Linked DNA regions of Homo sapiens: region 2 is linked to region 1. Evidence: fine-mapped expression QTL. A gene starts in region 1. The other region holds a variant in brackets. All regions are shown on one strand. Distances are from middle to middle.

The links. PIP is the estimated chance that this variant, and not a neighbour inherited with it, causes the effect. A credible set is the group of variants that fine-mapping cannot tell apart.
Region 2: its variant is the best candidate, but not a certain one, in a credible set for the expression of CBFA2T3 in whole blood (TOPMed, PIP 0.85).

What each region holds. Positions count from the first base shown.
Region 1 is chr16:88,972,928-88,982,385 of GRCh38, reverse strand. It overlaps CBFA2T3 (CBFA2/RUNX1 partner transcriptional co-repressor 3), which reads left to right and starts at 5,179. Exons shown (of 12, transcript NM_005187.6): 1 at 5,179-5,729. The coding sequence starts at 5,579. It overlaps LOC124903756 (a long non-coding RNA gene), which reads right to left and starts at 1,323. Exons shown (of 2, transcript XR_007065183.1): 1 at 1,157-1,323; 2 at 100-430. RefSeq lists a silencer at 12-214 and enhancers at 4,758-4,807, 6,648-6,857, 6,510-7,054, 8,996-9,155, 9,336-9,405.
Region 2 is chr16:89,078,104-89,087,743 of GRCh38, reverse strand. No RefSeq gene overlaps it. Among named protein-coding and RNA genes, the nearest start is that of ACSF3, 11 kb to the left of the region's middle. The variant A/G (reference allele first, on the strand shown) is at 5,628.

The sequences.
Region 1 (9,458 bases):
GGATTCCACTGTCCCCCTGGGCTGGCCCCTTCACGGCTCAGGGATCTCGCAGGGGTCACAGCTGCCCGTCCGTGCTTGCCCACCTTCACGGGCACCATAGGAGAGTCCAAACGTGGACGGTTTTATTAAATCCTCACCACACCCCCATTCAGCTGACTCTGTTACCTTCTTACTTTACAGTTGGGGAAACGGGTCAAGACATTTGCCCAAGCGTACCCAGCACAGACAGGAAATGCTGAGTGTGAACCAGGGGCCTGTGACTTCGAGACCCTCAGTGGGGTTCCGGCTGTCCCACCGGAGACTCCTGGAAGCTGAGGTGGTGAGCGGGACCGGGGGACACCTTCGAGGGAAGCTGGAACCGCGGTTCTTTCCTTGGAATTCAGGGGATCCGTGGACTTGGATGAGTTTCATCTGGCATTGTGTCGTGTCTCTAACCAAAATTTAGCCTTTCCTGTAACCAAGAACGTGGGCACCTCCCCAGGGTGTCAGCCGCGCCTGTGCCGTTGACACCGATAGAGCTGCCCCAGGGCCACTTTGGTGGGCCCCAAGCAGCCACGCCTTGGGAGGGTCCAGGGCTCCACAAAAGACCCCCCTCGCCTTCCACTCACCACCACGTCTCCTAATGCGGTTCCCACGCCTCACCACTTTAAATCATGGCTTAATGAAAAGCACAGTGCTCACTACACCAGAATGTTCTAACGGGGTGGTAGCTGTATTTTGGTAAAATGGGTTTCCTTCATAATTCTGTGAACTTATTTGCTTACTAGATGCCCAAGGAGTCCACACACCGGGAAGGTGAAGACCCCGATTCCAGTTCCGTGCTCTCATTGGGGTGTCTCCGGCCTGCGCCTCGGCTCGGACTCCCCAGGTAGACCTGCTCTTTCTGGGGGTGGCAGGAGCGCCCAGTAACTGCAGTCTCAGAGCCCTGGAATCCTGCACCACTTTGTACCAGGTTTCCCCAAATCACCCCAGCCCTCCGGCCATGGCACCTTCTCCGTGGTTCTGGGTTTGCTCAGCCGTGCCCTGAGCTGGGGAGTGGCTGAGCATCCAGCTATGAGCCGCTTCACCTGCACTGCCTTGAACACCCGGGGCAGGTTTTTTCCTGCCTCCACCCCCGGCCCCCACTCCCTCTGTGGCTCACCCCAACTGTCCACACCTTATTCAGGACCAGAAAGCCGGGGCAAGGCTCCTCCGTACATGACACTGTTCAGCATCCTCTGGAGCGGCTTCGCGACTTACATTCCTCTCTCCAGGCTTTGTGACTGGGGATGGCACCCTTGTGGGCCTCCTCCCTCCTCTGTAAAGTGGGCTGGCATGAGACTTACATAAAACCATATTACCACTTATTCATTGATCCACCTATCCACCCACCCACCCATCCACCCATCCACCCACCCACCCACCCATCCACCCATCCACCCACCCCTCTACCCATCCATCCACACATTGACCCACCCACCCATCTATCCACCTACCCACCCATTCACCCATGCACCCATCTATTCACCCATCCATCCATCCATCCATTCACCCATCCACCCATCTATCCACCCATCCATCCACCCATCCATCCACCCATCCACCCATTCACCCATCCACCCACCCATCCACCCATCCATCCACCTATCCACCCATCCACCCATGTATCCATCCATCCACTCATTCACCTGTCTATCCACCCATCCATCCCTACCCACCCATTCACTGATCCACTCATCCATCCACCCATCCACGCACCCATTCATCCACCCATCCATCCACACATTCACCCACCCACCGATCCATTCACCTACTCACCCATTCACCCATCTCTCCATCCACCACCCATTCACCCATTTATCCATCCATCCATCCATCCATCCATCCACCCATTCACTCATCTATCCACTCATCCACCCATTCACCCGTCTATCCACCCATCCACACATTCACCCATCTATCCACCCACCCACCCACACACCCATCCACCATTCATTCACCCACACACCCATCCATCCACCTACCCACCCATTCACCCATCTCTCCATCCACCCATCCATCCACACATTCACCCACCCACCTATCCATTCGCCTACTCACCCATTCACCCATCTCTCCATCCATCCACCCATCCACCCATCTATCCATCCACCTACCCATTCACCCATTTATCCATCCATCCTTCCACCTATTCACCCATCTATCCACCCATCCACCCATTCACCCATCTACCCACCCATCCACCCATCTATCCATCCACCACCCATTCACCCATTTATCCATCCATCCATCCATCCACCCATTCACTCATCTATCCACTCATCCACCCATTCACCCGTCTATCCACCCATCCACACATTCACCCATCTATCCACCCACCCACCCACACACCCATCCACCATTCATTCACCCACACACCCATCCATCTACCTACCCACCCATTCACCCATCTCTCCATCCACCCACCCATTTACCCATTTATCCATTCATCCATCCACCCATTCACCCATCTTTCCGCCCATTCACCCATCTATCCATCCACCCACCCATCCACACATCTATCCATCCACCCACCCATCCACCCACTCACTCACTCACCCATCTATCCACCCACTCACCCATCTATCCACCCATCCATCCACCCATTCACTCATCCACCCACCCACCCATCCACCCATCATCTACCCACCCATCCACTCACCCACCCACCCATTCATTCATCAATCTATTCATTCATCTATTCATCCAGCAGTGAAGGGTGTGTGTGTTGGGGGTGGGGGGGTTCCTACATGCTAGAAGAGAAGGCAAACATAAGACACCCTGCCTGAAGGAAGGCCTCCTCACCCACCCCCACATGGCGTCATCTCCCCCACTGCCCCCTCACCCTCCTCCAGTTCTCTGGCCATCCTACAGATTCACCAAAGCCTGCCTTAGGGCCCCTCTGCCCACCCAGGGACAGTTTCCCCAACTGCCCTATGGGCCCCACATGCTGGGCCATGTTGATGGAACGTGTCTCCTATAGTTCCCAGAGAGCAGGACCAGGGGCTGTCTTGGACACCGAAAGAACCCCAGTAGGCCCTAATAGGTCTTTTAGGAAGGAAGGAAAGGCCCCTCCTGCCCCGAGAGGCTGGGTGCTGGCTGCAGACAGCAGAGGTCCCTGGGAGAAGCCGAGGCCCCTCCTGCTGCCCCCACCTCTGCAGCCACTTCCTCCCCAGCCCCTTATCTCCTGGCCGCCCAGCTCTGAAAGCCACAGCCAACGTCTGCTTCCCCACAAGCACCAACTGCCCGGCCTGGGGGAGAGGAGGCCGGTAGTGGGGAGGTGGGGAGTGGTGCCCACACCCCCAGGTGGCCGCCAAAGTTGGGGGGCAGCTCCTGCCCCCAACTTGTGGGCAACTTTCTTCTCTTCTCTTTCCAACCCCACCTCCGTCAGACCCCCTGATTAGACACCAGGCAAGACGGGGCCAGGCGGGGAGCTCAGGGCCTCATTGCGAAAGTGGAAGTGTCCCATCTGTGGGGGGCGCAGGTGCAGGCCTCGAACATCTGCCTCAGGGCTGGGGGCAGGGCTGCCTGTCTCCTACCCCGGGTGGGGGGAGCCACCACCCTCACCCAGGGTGCTGTCCTGCTGCCTCACGGAGTGGGGGCTGTGCCCCCTGAGACCCTCAGTTCCCCGACTCTGAGACTCTCACTGCACACAGCTGGGGAATAGGCACTGACACAGACCAACCCCAGCCACATGCTCACGGTGGCCCCGGCCCATGTGGCGGCTCAGAGCCTCTGCTGTCTCCACTCCCGGAAACGCTGTAGGAGCTGACGCCGTTAGGATCGTGCACCCTGCACAAATGAGGAAACCAGGAGGGTCAGGGCCCCCAGGACCCTCACTGTGAATCCCACCCTGAGCCAGAGCACAGGGAACAGCAGGGGACGTGGGGACCGAATGATGGCACCAGGGGATGGGCCCCGGGCTGGCAGGAATGTCCCCTCCAGCCTCAGTCCTGGGGGCAGAACGGCCGACCACCCAGGGCAGGGGAGGCCCCGGGTGGGCCTGGCGTCTGGGAAGTTCCCCAGCAGGAACAAACACATCCCCACTGTAAGCTGGACACACACGCTGGCATGCAGCTTGTTGTCACCAACTCGAGAAAGACACTCGACTATTGGGACAGGGAGACCCGGGACACCTGGAGACCCTGCGGGGAAGGAGTCGGCTTTTACTCCTGCACGGCTTGAATTATTAACTGCGTGCAAACGTGACCTAAAACTCAAATCAAATCAAATCAAAATAGCACAGATGCCCGTGAGCCGGCCCTGGGTCTGCGGGCTCCACACCTCTGGCCTGTCTGAGGCCGGGAAACCTCCAGCCATGGCATCAGAAAAGCCACCGAACCAGGGCTGCAGGGCCGAAGGGTCACTGTCCCCTCCCAGGAAGCTCCTGCCCTCTGACAGTTGTCAGGGAGCTTTAGAAAGTGGCTTTTTTTCCCAGCATCTGGGATGTGCCTCACTCTCTCAGCCCAACGGCCGCTAGAAAGGGGTCCTAGGACTCTCCCTAGGGTCTAAGTAGTCCCAAGAGTGCTCTGAGGTGGCTTCTGGAATTTCCCAGACTGGAGAAGCCACCTACCCCCGACCCCCGCAAACTCCAGGCTGCTCACCGGAGGCGGCCGCTGGGGCGTGGGGTGAGGGTCTTTCTGAGGCACCCCCGGAGAGTGGGGGAGCCCTGCTGTCTCCACAGAGGGCCAGGAGCCCTGTGCACGAGGCCAAGCAGAGAGAGAGGGTTTCCTTCCCAGCAGGCGGGAGGTACTTTGAGGACAGGTCAGGTGCCCAAGAACCCCGGAGCAGGGGCTGAGGAGAGGCTGGTCAGAGGCCCCGCCTTGCTCAAGGGCACAGTCAGCAGACACAGGAACACGGGCAGGGTGGCCCCTGGAGCGGGGGCAAACTAAAAGGGGTGCTGGGGAAAGCTCGGCTGACTGAGGGCTAGCGGAGAGGGAGGACACCCCCAGATACCCCAGGCTGAAGGAAGGGCCAAGCCCTGGGGGGAAGATGGGTGGGCGGGACAGGCCAAGGGCTCTGGGCCAGGATGGAGCTGCCCTCAGGCCTGCACACCTGCCCTGGGGCCGAGGAAACACATGCCCAGTGGCCACGCTGTAGGGCTCAGGGTGGGTGGGACGTCACCAGAGCTGCCTGGGAGGAGGAAGTTGTTGGAAGGTCAAACCGGAATGGCCCGAGGGAAGGCCGCGCAGGGCAGGGCCCCAGATGGTTCCTGTCAGGGAAGTGGCGGGCGCAGCTGCAGGCCTCCGGCCCCGGCATTATCACGGGGACACAGCTGGCTGCCTCACCCGCAGGCTGCAGGGAGACCTTCCCCAGCCTGCAGCCCCAGGCCCGCCCCGCGTCACATGAGCCCCAGGGCTCCCACCCCCTCCCCAGGGCAGAGGACACCCAGTTGGTGGCCGGGAGGGCCTCGGCTTTCCAGGGACAGAGGCCCAACTCCAGGACGCCCCAGCTGGCCCAGCCCCTCCTCTTTCCCTCAAGGCTGCAGGAGGTCGGGAAAGGCAGTCCTGGTAGAGGCCTGTCCTGGGCTCCAGGTTGGCCCCTGAGGGTGGCCCTCCTCATGCCGGCTTCAAGACTGAGGGACAGGGCAGCCAGTTCAGCCTCGGGATCCACCTGTGGCTCCATGTCCCAGACGCACCCTGTGCTGGAGAGCGGCCTCCTGGCATCTGCCGGCTGCTCCGCACCCCGGGGTCCCAGGAAGGGCGGCCCAGGTAAGAGGCTCGAGGGGAAGGTGGTGGGGTGGGGGCAGAGAGCGGCAGCCGGTGCCGGGGCTGTGACTCCTTAGAGCTTCGCGGGGCCTGCCCAGCTTAGTTGACAGTGCCGGCACGGATGGCCGTGTTGACTCACCTCAGATATCAACAGGGCCACCCCACAGGCAGGTCCTGCACAGCTGGGGCAGGTGGGCTGGTGAGGGTTTGGCAGGTGCCAGCCAGGTGCCCCAGCCCCACCCAGAGGCAGATGCTGGAGGCCGGGCTGCTCAGCCCCGTCTAGGAGGGTGGGCTGTGTTCTCCTGGGGGTGGGAGGGCCGCAGCCGGGAAGTGATGGGGGGGTCCTAGAAAGAGAGCCCTCCTCCTCCTGGGATGCCCTCCGGGTGTGACACCTCACAGCAGGTTGGATGAGGAAACTGAGGCCAGAGGGGAGGGCACTGGCCCAAGACCCCGGTGAGGAGGAAATGGACCCAACCCTGGGCCCCTGTCCGAGGAACGATTCCAGCCAGGGCAGTGGGGGTTTACGGGGAACCTGGGCCTGCCCTTCTGGGGGCTTCGGGCTCTGGGGAGGGGTCCAGTCCAGCAGGACGCCAGCTATTGCTGATACCCCCCACCCGAGCCTGCGAAGTCCCAGGACAAGGATCCCCGGACGCTGGGGGCTGCAGCTGCAGGCTGGTGGCCCCGATTCCCAGTGGCCCTCGTGGCCACACTCCCAGCAGCCGTCGGAACCTTCAGGAGCTCACAGTCTCCCGTCTCGCGGGGCTCTCACTGAGGCCGTCAGGTCCAAGGTCTGACTGCACCCCTGACACTCACACACAGAACCCGGGACCGAGGGGTGTCCCCATCTCTGGAGACCACATTCCCTGAGCAGGTCCTGGCGGCGGCTGCCTGAGGCTGTTCCCACCTGCAGCTGCCCGTGGGGCCCCAGGGCCATCCCCCACAAGGGCCCCAGATGTGAGCAGGAACTTCCCAACCCCGGGTGCCCGGAATGCAAAGGCCGGACCTCACCACAGCCAGTGCTACTGTTCGTTTCTCCCGAATGGGTGACTCAGAGCCACCTTCAAGGCAGCACCAGCCCACTGGCCCTGGCATCTGCCATCCCGTCCTCTCTGGAGCGGCCCTGTCTATCCCCTGGCGCTGAGTGGCCTTGGGCCGGGTGCTTCCTCCCTGGGCCTCAGTTTCCTCATGGTTCAGACCCTTCCGACCTGCTCCCCGCGTGAGAGCAGGTTCTCACCGGCGCGGAGAGAGACGGGCTCTGAGGCGCATGGAGAGCCGCCGCTTTGTTAGGATGGGGGCGTCTACTGTGGAAGGACGGGGGTGTCTACCGTGGAAGGAGGTTAGGGCCAAGAGGTGGCCCCGTGCCTGAGTCATGCGAGGGGCTGCTGGCTAGAGGCATGAAACAGAGGGTCAGGGCGGGCCTCTGACATGGCTGCAGGTGAGGAGCAGAGGGTCAGGGTGGACCTCTGACATGGCTAAAGATGTGGAGCAGAGAGGGTCAGGGTGGACCTCTGACATGGCTGCAGGTCAGGAGCAGAGGGCCAGGGTGGCCTCTAACACAGAGTACCCAGCCACTGTGCCCACCCCCAGGGAGCCCCTGCTTAGGGGCTGCAATGTGAGGAGGGAGCAGGGTCTCACTTGGGTGCGGGGTCCTGCCCCTGGCTTCTAGGGGCTTCTGTCCGTGCAACCACCCGGCCCTATTCCAGGGTACCCATGGGACAGCCTTAGCCACATCAGGCAGCAGAGTTACATGTGAATACCAGCACTTGGGGCTTCTCATCCTGTACCCCAGGGGCCTCCCAAGGCCCCCAGGGGACAGATGTGGGAGCCTTGTGATGCCAGAAAGCCTCGGCATCAAGCCTCGCCTGGCTGGAGGAGCGGGGGCCATGGGGGGCATGGGAACTGCGGGGGGTCCTGGACAGACCTGAGGGCACCTCAGCCCCACTGTGTGGCTGTCAGGCACACAGGCCTCCCAAGAGTTCCTAAAACCTTTGAGGCCTGAAAACAGGCCGATTGGCTTTAAACTCTGGGGAGAACAGTAATATTTCTAAAAGCTGAAGTAGAAGAACCTTCCTGTCTTTAGACCAAAGGCGTACTGAGCAGGGCTGTGTTGCTGCGCGTTTGGTGGCGGGCAGGAGAGACGTCTGTGTGCTGTGCAGGGGGTGGGAGGACCTCAGCCCCTCGTCTCCTCTGACAGCGTCCTGGGGGCTGAGGTGTAAGCAATCAGAAGATGGCCACAGAGCACACGCCGCCGTCTGGGGGCCGGGACCCCTTCCCTGGGCTCCTTCACCAGCCCCCTCACGCGGAGGGTCTGGATCCTCACTGACCCCTGGGCCCAGTGGTGCAGAAGGAACCCCTGAAGACGGTGCTTGCGGTGCTGGGTTTACGAGGCGCCCGCTGTGTGTGCTCGGAGCTGTGCAGGCTCTCACCGCCTTGTCCCCCCAAGCCCACTTTGCAGAAGAAGAGGCGGAGGTCAGAAAGGTGACCTGACTGCCTCAGGAGAGAGGGATGGGAACCAGGTCACCCGAGGAGGGTGCCAGGGACAGAGATTTTGAAATCCACCTGGCAAGTGTAGGCTGAGGCAGAGAAGTTTCAGTGCCATGTGCTGGGACCTCCATGGGGGAGAAACTGAGTCAGGCCTGCCTGGTGTCACCTTAGAGGGACGACGTGGGATCTCGGGGAGGTGGTGAGCACTATCAGTGGAGGGGTGCAGGCAAAGGCGGGCGGGTGTTATGGGGACCGGGCAAGGCGGGAGATGTTATGGGGACCGGGCAAGGCGGGCAGATGTTATGGGGACTGGGCAGATGCTGTGAAGGCACCATCCGTGCAGGAAGCTTGAGCCCTGGCTGGAGCCCACCTGGCAAAGGGGTCACGTCCAGAGCCTGCGGTCAGCCTGGGCTCCCTCTACCCGACCTTGCCCTTGGGGCTGGGCTTTGCCACCACTCACTCTCCATCCTCCATCCCCTCAAGTGGCCATCCAGGCCCAGCTGTCCTCTGGAATGTTGTGGGTCTGGAACGTCCTGGGTCCAGAATGTTCTGGGTCCGGAATGTTCTGGGTTTGGAATGTTCTGGGTCCGGAATATTCTGCATTGGAAGGTTCTGGGTCTGGAATGTTCTGGGTCTGGATTGCCCTCCCCGGGTGTTTCTATCTCCTGGGGCTGCAGTAAGGATGGGCTGCAAGCTGGCTGGGGGCTCAGAACAACAGAGGCTTCTGTTCTCACAGTGCCGCAGGCTGGAAGTCCGAAACTAAGGCGTCAGATGGCCGTGCTCCTCCAGGTCCTGCCTTCTCCAGGTCCTGCTGGTCCCAGGTGTTCCTGGGCTGTGGCCGCCGTGCCGCAGCCACTACCTCTGTCTTTGCAAGGCCGTCTCCTCCCTCCCAAATCTTCCTCTGCCTCCTTCTTCTAAGGCCCAGCCCACCCTAGGCCAGAGCTCCAGCCACTCACTCTGCACTCCAGGCGGTGGGACACAGGGAGGCACTGGAGAGGCTGCAGGCAGCCCCGGTTATGGGAGGTGCCCCATCAAGGGGGCGCGGTGGGAGGGGGAGTGGACATGAGCAGCCGGGCGGTCTCAGCCCGACTCCTCCTTCAGCCGCAGGCCCTGTGTCTGCTGGGCTTTGGAGCTGGTGGATCATGCAGAGCTCGGCCAGGGTGTCTGTGGGCTCCAGCCAGAGGCAGGGAGGTCAGTGTGTGCATGACAAGACGTCTGAGGCCACAGACAGACAGACAGGCAGCCCCA
Region 2 (9,640 bases), 110 kb before region 1:
GGATTCCACATTTACAGAAACTGTGACATAATAGATGTTCATTGTTTAAGCCACTAGGTTTCGCGGTAATTTGAAGACAGCAATAGAGAACGAATACACTGCCTCAGCCAGTTAGTAGCTGCATGATACTGGGAAACTCATCTCTCTGAGCCTCAGTTCCTCACCTGAAGATAAGAGCACCTGCTGCTAATGGATGTTATAAAAATTAAATAAGGGCCGGGCATGATGGCTCATGCCTGTGATCCCAGCACTTTAAGAGGCTGAGGTGGGCAGATCACTTGAGCCCAGGAGTTTGAGACCAGCTTGGGCAACATAATGAGACCCCATCTCTACAAAAAATCCAAAAAAAAGTAGCCAGACATGATGGTGCGTGCCTGTAGTCCCAGCTACTCAGGAGGCCGAGGTAGGAGGATCACCTGAACCTGGGAGTTTGAGGTTGCAGTGAGCTGTGATTGTGCCACTGCACTCCAGCCTGGGTGACAGAGTAAGACCCTATCTAAAAAAAATTATATAAGATATTCCAGGTAACATTCCTAGGACAGTGCCTGGAATGTGCCTGGACAGTGCCTGGAATTTACGGAACATTTGTTCAGTAAATATTTATTTTTGAGATGGAGTCCCACTGTCACCCGAGGTGGAGTGCAATGGCACAATCTCGGCTCACTGTAATCTCCACCTCCCAGGTTCAAGCGATTCTCCTGCCTCAACCTCCCAGGTAGGTGGGACTACAGGCATCCACCAGCACACCCAGCTAAGTTTTGTATTTTTGGTAGAGACAGAGGTTTCACCATGTTGGCCAGGCTGGGCTCAATAAATAGTTATCATCGCTGTCATAAAATATCTATATTGCAAAATGGGAAGAGTTCAAGATGATCTTAGTTCAACCCGGTGGGCTCAGGAATGCTTTGTGGGAAAAGTAACATGTGAATTGGCCTTTGAAAGAGAGGCAGGATTTGGGCCTGGGGCGATAGAGGACCAGTGTCCTCAGAGAGGGGACAGCATGGACAAAGGTGTGGAGGCTGAAAGGCCGGAGCTTGCTGAAGGCCATTCATACTCAGTTGGAGCTGGGGCCCAAATGTACGATGGGTGGGCAGCTGTGCAGGTGAATGGATCAGGCCAGGAGGTGCTGGAGTTAAGGGGTCTGGAACCTAGATGGAGGGAGCTCAGGAGCCTCTGGAGGGTTCTGTGTCAGCTGTGGCAGGCTGGAGCAGGGAGCTTCGAGGCTGTGGCACCATGTGGCAAGGCCATTCTGATTCTTGCGGGATACCTGGCCTGTGGTAGGCGTGCAGGGGCTGCCGGAGACATGGATAAGCAAGAGTCTTCTTACTCTTGAATCTGATCACCCTGATGCGTCAGCTCACGGATTCTCGCAGGATCAGATATGGCACAGACTGACTCACATTGGAAGAGCTGTTGGCAGAGATGCTGCTGCTGTCGGACCCACATACTCCACGAAGGCGGGAATCGAGCCACGGCAGGAGCTGACGGCACCCGTTCAACAGTCACCAGTCCTCCTTCCTCTCTTCGGACCCTGATCCGGTTCCCATTCCCATCGGCCCTGAGTAAGGGGCTATGGGGAGGTGGGCCCCAGAAGGCGAGTGCTGAGTGGTTGAGGCTCAGTGATGGCTTTGCTTTTTCAGAGACCCTGCCCATGAAGGTGAGGACAAATCCAAGAAGGTTTGTTTCACCACAAAACAAGAGATGCCTCGGGAGAAACAGCCCATTTTCCCCGGTGACCACAGTGTCGTGTGTGATGTCTGGAGTCACTGCAGCCCTCCTGTAGCCGTGAGGACGACAGGCAGATGGAGCCCGTGTGATCCTCAGCTGTGTGATCCACACTCACTTTATCTGAAGCCGCCTCCGCACTTCTGAGTCAAGACATCTTCCTTATTGCTGTGGTTGCTTTTAGTTTGGATTTTGTTACAGGTGAAGGTGCCTAAAGGTGGGGTGGGAGGAGGGAGGGAGTCCAGTGAACAACCAGCCAAGTAATCTGCTTCGTCAGTGAGGAAGTGAGGAGGCATAAGGGGACACCACTCAAGGACCGTTCCACCCAGCTGGGGTTCAAACCAGCACCCTACAATGCGGTTCAGAGTGAGTGAGCGTGGAGCCGTGAGGCCGAGGCGATGGTGAGGGGGCTCCCTAGAGGCAGCAAGGGAGGGGCAGGGGCAGCGCCCGGTCCAGGCACAGGAGGGGCAAGTTTGAGACAGGTGGACGCTGCATCACAGCTGTGGAAGCTGTGCCAGCTTCCTGATGCCAGGCTGGCATCAGGGCATGTGATGGCATCAGGGCATGGCATGGCGTGGGGTCCCCGTCTGCTCCATCGGGAAGGCGTGGAGCTGGACAGGGGCTGTGAGCTCTGTCCTCTGCCAACGCATCTCGAGTGCTGCCCACGCCCCAGGGGCCCCAGGGCCCTTTCCCGGCTCCATGAGTTCAAAAGTATTTTCATAATGATATGAAGATGCTGCCCGTGTTTCCTGTGTGTTGACATTTGCACAGACTGTACAGAAGACATGTGGGTAACACCGCTGCTGCCTTCACCCTGTGAGGCTGCGGCCCCAAACGGCCACCCCCAGGGGCTGTGTCCTCAGCCCGCAGTCGGGGGAGGGCCAGCTCCACCTAAGAATGCCCTTGATGGAGCAGCAACAAGGCTGTTCACGTCAAATCCCATCACGGGCGGCACACGCCACCCACTGCTGCTGCGTTCGGAGGCACGAGGCTTGTCCTGGGTAAGGCCCAAGCCCCTGTCAGAATCAGCTGCTGTTCATGGCCATTTTGACTGGAAAGAACCACAGACAGATGGAGGACAGCGACCCAGACTCGGGTGTTTGGCAGAACGGAGTGAGCCTGACAGTTCCAGAAAAACAGCCAAATGTATTTGTCCTCCTGTGGTACGATTTGACTTTCAAGAAAAAGTTAAGAGACTGAGATAAGCATGTTCACCTCTGTGAACTCAACAGCTGCCCAATACTTACAGAATTTGCTGATATCAGTGATCGTTATTAATTCATGTGAATTTTTACACAACACAACCCGTCAGTGTGTGCACACGCAGCTCAGTGAACCCACGTTTCTCACATGACCGATGTGGGGTGTGGCGGAATCACGTGTGGTGGTAAAAGACCGGTTCAGAGTGCAAAAGAGAACAGCTTTAACGTGCAGCAGGGAAAGCTCAGATTTGGTTTTAGACACCACGGTTCAGCAAACCTTTAAAAAAGTGGCACTCTTCCAGTTTTGGTGTCAAAGAATTCCCATGGTTACTGAAAAGGCAAAATTACAATACCCCTCCCCCGGGAGAAAAGGCTGTTACAATACCCCTCCCCCGGGGGAAGAGGCTGTTGCGGTACCCCTCCCCCGGGGAAAGAGGCTGTTGCGGTACCCCTCCCCCGGGGAAAGAGGCTGTTGCGGTACCCCTCCCCCGGGGGAAGAGGCTGTTGCGGTACCCCTCCCCCGGGGGAGAAGAGGCTGTTGCGGTACCCCTCCCCCGGGGGAAAGAGGCTGTTGCGGTACCCCTCCCCCGGGGGAAGAGGCTGTTGCGGTACCCCTCCCCCGGGGGAAGAGGCTGTTGCGGTACCCCTCCCCCGGGGGGAAGAGGCTGTTGCGGTACCCCTCCCCCGGGGGGAAGAGGCTGTTGCGGTACCCCTCCCCCGGGGAAAGAGGCTGTTGCGGTACCCCTCCCCCGGGGGAAGAGGCTGTTGCGGTACCCCTCCCCCGGGGGAGAAGAGGCTGTTGCGGTACCCCTCCCCCGGGGGAAAGAGGCTGTTGCGGTACCCCTCCCCCGGGGGAAGAGGCTGTTGCGGTACCCCTCCCCCGGGGGAAGAGGCTGTTGCGGTACCCCTCCCCCGGGGGGAAGAGGCTGTTGCGGTACCCCTCCCCCGGGGGGAAGAGGCTGTTGCGGTACCCCTCCCCCGGGGGGAAGAGGCTGTTGCGGTACCCCTCCCCCGGGGGAAGAGGCTGTTGCGGTACCCCTCCCCCGGGGGAGAAGAGGCTGTTGCGGTACCCCTCCCCCGGGGGAAAGAGGCTGTTGCGGTACCCCTCCCCCGGGGGAAGAGGCTGTTGCGGTACCCCTCCCCCGGGGGGAAGAGGCTGTTGCGGTACCCCTCCCCCGGGGGGAAGAGGCTGTTGCGGTACCCCTCCCCCGGGGGAAGAGGCTGTTGCGGTACCCCTCCCCTGGGGAAAGAGGCTGTTGCGGTACCCCTCCCCGGGGGAGAAGAGGCTGTTGCGGTACCCCTCCCCCGGGGGAGAAGAGGCTGTTGCGGTACCCCTCCCCTGGGGAAAGAGGCTGTTGCGGTACCCCTCCCCGGGGGAGAAGAGGCTGTTGCGGTACCCCTCCCCCGGGGGAGAAGAGGCTGTTGCGGTACCCCTCCCCCGGGAGGGAAGAGGCTGTTGCGGTACCCCTCCCCCGGGGAAAGAGGCTGTTACAGTACTCCACTATACATTATCGGTGTGAGGCCAGATTTTCTTCATATAGTTCAATCAAAACAACATATCACAGTAGACTGGATATGGAGGCACACAGGTTCCCCTCTGGCCCACGCAGCCAAGTGTTACAGTGACAGCGGACACATAAAATCATGCCCTAGTTTCCAGAGTTGTTTTGTTTTGGAATTTATAGATATCTTCATAAAAGATGTCGTTGGCCGGGTGCGGTGGCTCACATCTGTAATCCCAGCACTTTGGGAGGCTGAGACGGGCAGATCAAGAGGTCAGGAGATCGAGACCATCCTGGCTAACACAGTGAAACCCTGTCTCTACTAAAAATACAAAAAATTAGCTGGGCGCGGTGGCGGACACCTGTAGTCGCAGCTACTCAGGAGGCTGAGGCAGGAGAATGGCGTGAACCAGGGAGGCGGAGCTTGCAGTGAGCCGAGATCGCACCACTGCACTCCAGCCTGGGTGATAGAGCGAGACTCCGTCTCAAAAAAAAAAAAAAAAAACCAACAAAACGTGTTGTTTATGTTAACATTCAGTGAGTTTATTGTGGTTACTATTGACTTGATAAATATTTTTAGATAAATATTTTTAAATGTTCTCCAATTTCTTTTGAATTTGGTAAGTATCAATAACCATTACCGACATAAACAGAAGCTCTTGGGGTCCTGAATGACTTTTAAAATCTTTAATTCTAGCCGGGCGCGGTGGCTCACGCCTGTAATCTCAGCACGTTGGGAGGCTGAGGTGGGCAGATCACCTGAGGTCAGGAGTTCAAGACCAGCCTGGCCAACAAGGTGTAATTTCTACTAAAATTACAAAATTAGCCGGGCGTGGTGGTGGATGCCTGTAATACCAGCTACTCGGGAGGCTGAGGCAGGAGAGTCACTTGAACCTGGGAGGTGGAGGTTGTAGTGAGCCAAGATCACGCCACTGCACTCCAGCCTGTGCAAAAAGCGTGAAACTCTGTCTCAAAACAAATAAAAATTAAAAAAAATAAAATGTTTAATGCCTATGGGTACATAATTATCTGTGTCTATGGGGAACACGTGACGTGTTGATCACACCAGGGTAATCGGGGCCACTGTCACCTCGAGCCTTTATCATTTCTTTGTGTTAGGAGCATTCCAGTCCACTTTTCAGTTATTTTAAAATATGCAATAAATTCTTGTTAACAATAGTCACCCTATTGTGCTACC[A/G]AATATCTGATCTTATTCCTTCCATGTAATTATGTTTGTACCTATTAACCATCCCCTCACCACCCCCCTACTCCCCACCGCCCTTCCCAGCCTCTGGGAATATCTCCATCATTCTAGTCTCCATCTCCATAAGTTCCACTGTTTTCCAGCTCCCACATATGAACTGAATGATCTCTAAGACTGGGAAAGAGCCCTGAGACCCCACGAGAACAGTTGCTCTGGGGCCACAGGGAGCAGCTGCAGGTTGCAGGGCAGAGCTGGAGACAAGGCCATGGCTCATGAAGATGCCGACCTGGAGGCAGAGGCAGAGGACGTCGGGTGCCGCTGGGGCCATGCAGAGCCAGGACCATGGCTCTGGGAGACGGAGGTGGACGAGGCCGGGAGATACTGAGCGGGTGGCCACAGGATCCACGAGGGGTGGCAGATGTGTTGCGACAGAAGCAGGGCCCCACGATCCAGAGCCTCCTGGGGGGAGAAGTAAGAAAAGAAGGGTCAGCAGTGGGCAGAGACAGCGAGGGGCTGGCAGGAGGGCAGAGTGCACCCTCTGGAGGAGACCAGGCTCTGCCCATTGGGCCACTCAAAGTCATGGGTAGGGAGCGCATCTTCCAGTGCCCAGGGTCTTGCTGTGAAAGTAAGTGGGGTCCAACTGAAGCCCTCTAACTCCAGGAGCTCACGCCAAGCCCCGTCCACTGACCATGTCCACGCCTCACCCGTGTGCCCCCCGACCACATCCGTGCATTACCCGTGTGCCCCTCTGACCACGTCTGTGCCCCATGGGGCCAGAAAACAGCTGCTGATGCCCCAAAGCCCAGAGAAGTTCCTTGTGGCTTCATTTTCCCTCGTCTCTAGGAGGCTGGATCCAGGCCAGTTCTCCGTGGGCAGGAGGCTGCCCTCCCACCTGCTCCTCCACAGTCCTCATTTTGGACAATTGCATTTTTAAAACTTTAAATTATTACAAGTAATATACTCACTGTAAAGAAGACAGATGGAAAAACCCAGATAAACATAAACAGTCAAACACCCCAAACCACCCAGAACGCTTGCCTTGCCCCAGTCGTGCTCCCTGACACGCGTGTGCATGTACGTGAGCATGGTGCGTATGTGTGCAGGTCATGGATGTTCGTGTGCGTCTTTGCACTCTCTTCCACCCCTGCGTCTTCCTTTACTGCCTAAGGCCCATGTCATGGGGACAGGAATTTTGGCATTTGACCTGGAAGCGTTTGCCCCACCTGGGCTTGGAGAGAGTTCTGGGCAGGCCCTCAAAGTTTGCAGGAGCCTCCAGAGGGCCTGACCGTAGCTTAGATGCTGAGTGCATTGCACACGCACACAGAGCCATACACACAAGCTCCGGGCCATTGGCCCCGAGGCCGACCTCCCTCCCAGAAGGTGACGTCAACAACGCTGACTGTTGGGGCCACACACTGGACACGGGCACGATGGGGGCCACGCGCTGGACACGGGCACGAGGGGGGCGGGCCCAGATCATGGGCACGATGAGGGCCATGTGCTGGACATCGGCACGATGGGGCCATGTGCTGGACACAGGCACAATGGCAGCCACGCGCTGGACATGGGCACGATGGGGGCGGGCCCAGATCATGGGCACGATGGGGGTGAGCCCAGATGGAAAGAATGCCAGGCATGGGCATGTGGTGACCCCAGGCCTGGACATGACACGCTCTCCCCACAAGGAAAGAGACGCACAGGCCTCGCTGGGCGGAGTTGTCCAAGTGCCAGACACATGTGTCCCGGCAGCTGGCACTGGCTTGGCACAGACCCGGCTCCCAGGGTCTGGCTTCTACATGTGGAGCGGCGGGCACAGATGCCAGCTCTGCACAGCAGCTGCGAGGGGAGGCCTGGCTGCCGCCTTCTGGGACCTATGGTGGGGACGCTTTTCCTGGAGCCTAGAAACCTTTCCAGATCCTCCCTCTTCCCACCACACTCCTCCTCCTCAGGCCCTCCTTCCTCCCTCTGCTTTCTCCAGCAGTCCCGAGCCCCACAAGGTCCTCTCATCACTCAGCGCCAGGCCTGAGGCACCACCTGCACAATCAGAGCAGTGGCCTCTCCCCATGGCTTGTGCCAAATCAGGGCAGACACAGCATTGTCTGGGTGTGTGGGCCGAGGTCCTGTTGGCTGCATTGTTCCCAGGGTCTCCAAGCCTCCATTTAGACCCCAGAGAGTGAGCCAGCTGGTGCCACCAGTGGGAGGGACCCAGAGTTTCTGAGAAACCCAGAGGCTGGAGGCCTGTGTCCGAGCTGCAACAGCTCCCAAGGGAGAGAACCCTGGGACATGGTGAGGCCCCACGTGAGCCAGGGAAGGCCTGGCCTCGAACAGCAGAAAACACAGAAGCACCCGCCTAATGGAGTTCCCGCAAAGTCGCGCTGTATTCCAGCAGACGGGCCCGCCAGCCCAAGGAAGTCACACGTGCGCCCCTCTGTGCTTGGCCCTGTTGGGTTTATGCACCTCCTCCCAGATGTCCTGCGGCTGGCACAGATCTCTGGTGCGGGCATCGCCTGGCTCTGCAGGAGGGCGGAGGAGGGGTGCCGGGGAGCATGTGGCATGTCTGGGTGTAGTGGTGGCATTTTAGGAGCCAGAGTCCAGGGCCCGGGCGGGACAGATTTGGGGGTGTTTCGGGAGCAAGGTGGATTCATCCATCCACACTGCCTCACCAAAAACAGAGGGTACATGAGGTGAGGACGAAGATGAAAACGGGGAGAAAATGGGGGGTGAGGGTGGGCCCGCAAGTAGGCAGGCCTTGAAACCATCTCACCACAGAATGTCCTCGGGGTGCCCCGGCCACGGGTCCAGGAGGAGCCACCTCCAGGGGAGGCTGGCTTTCCACAGGCCCTAGGTTCCTGGGGCTGGGAACCCAGACGACGGGACTGAGCCACTGAGGGGGACAGAATCCATTTGGTGGAGTGACATGAAGCCCTGGAAATAAAACCGGGTGGCTTTTTAAAAATAAATAACATAAAAAATACACTTAACATAAAAATGACACTAAGGAGGAGAAAAACCATACAGCCATCTTGTATACAAGGGGGTCACATTCCCAGACCCCCAGGGATGCCTGAACCCCACATATCCGATGTGTTTTTGATCTGACAGCAGAGGCAGCTCCTGGAGGACTCACCGGTGCGGAGCGTCCACAGCGTGGACTCGCTGGACAAATGGAGGATCCCCTCCCGGGCGGACAGGGCGGGAGGTGTCAGAGTTCATCAAGCCGTGCATAATTTAAAACTTATGAATTGTTTAGTTTTAGAATTTTCCATTTAATATTTTTGGAGCTCTGTTGACCATGGATAACTGAAACTGCAGAAAAAGGGAAACCCTGGGCCCGGCACACCGGCTCACGCCTGTCATCCCAGCACTGTGGGAGGCTGAGGCAGGCAGATCACCTGAGGTCAGGAGTTTGAAACCCGCCTGGCCAACGTGGAGAAACCCTGTCTCTACTAAAAGTAAAAAAAAAATTAGCCGGGCGTGGTGGTGCATGCCTGTGATCCCAGCTACTCGGGAGGCTGAGGCAGGAAAATCACTTGAACCCGGGAGGCCGAGATTGCACTATTGCACTCCAGCCTGGACAACAGAGCAAGACTCTGTCTCAAAAAAACAAAAAGAAAAACAAACCCTGCTTAAGCGGGGATGTCTGTATTTTCCTGTTTCTTTTTCAGACCTTCATGTCCTTGGAGATACTGTCGGAGCTTCCTGGCAGCGTTGACCAAGCTGCCCCTCCCTTCCTGACAACCTTGGCCTCATCGCTCACCCTCTGGGCTCATCCTGCTGCGGGGTAACCAGGAGAGCCCCGGGGCAGGTGCCAGCCTTCAGGAGGAGCTCTGCCTCCTCTGTTCCAAAATCGGGGGAGGGTCCTTCCCACCAAGGGTGCCAGTCTTCCTTTCATCCAGGGCTCCTGGTGTCTCTGAAAATGCTGGAGATTTCAGTGAAACCCCAGAGGGGGCTCGATCCGACCTGAGGTGAGCCCTGGAGTTTGCCAGGGGTGGCTTATAGAGGCCCTC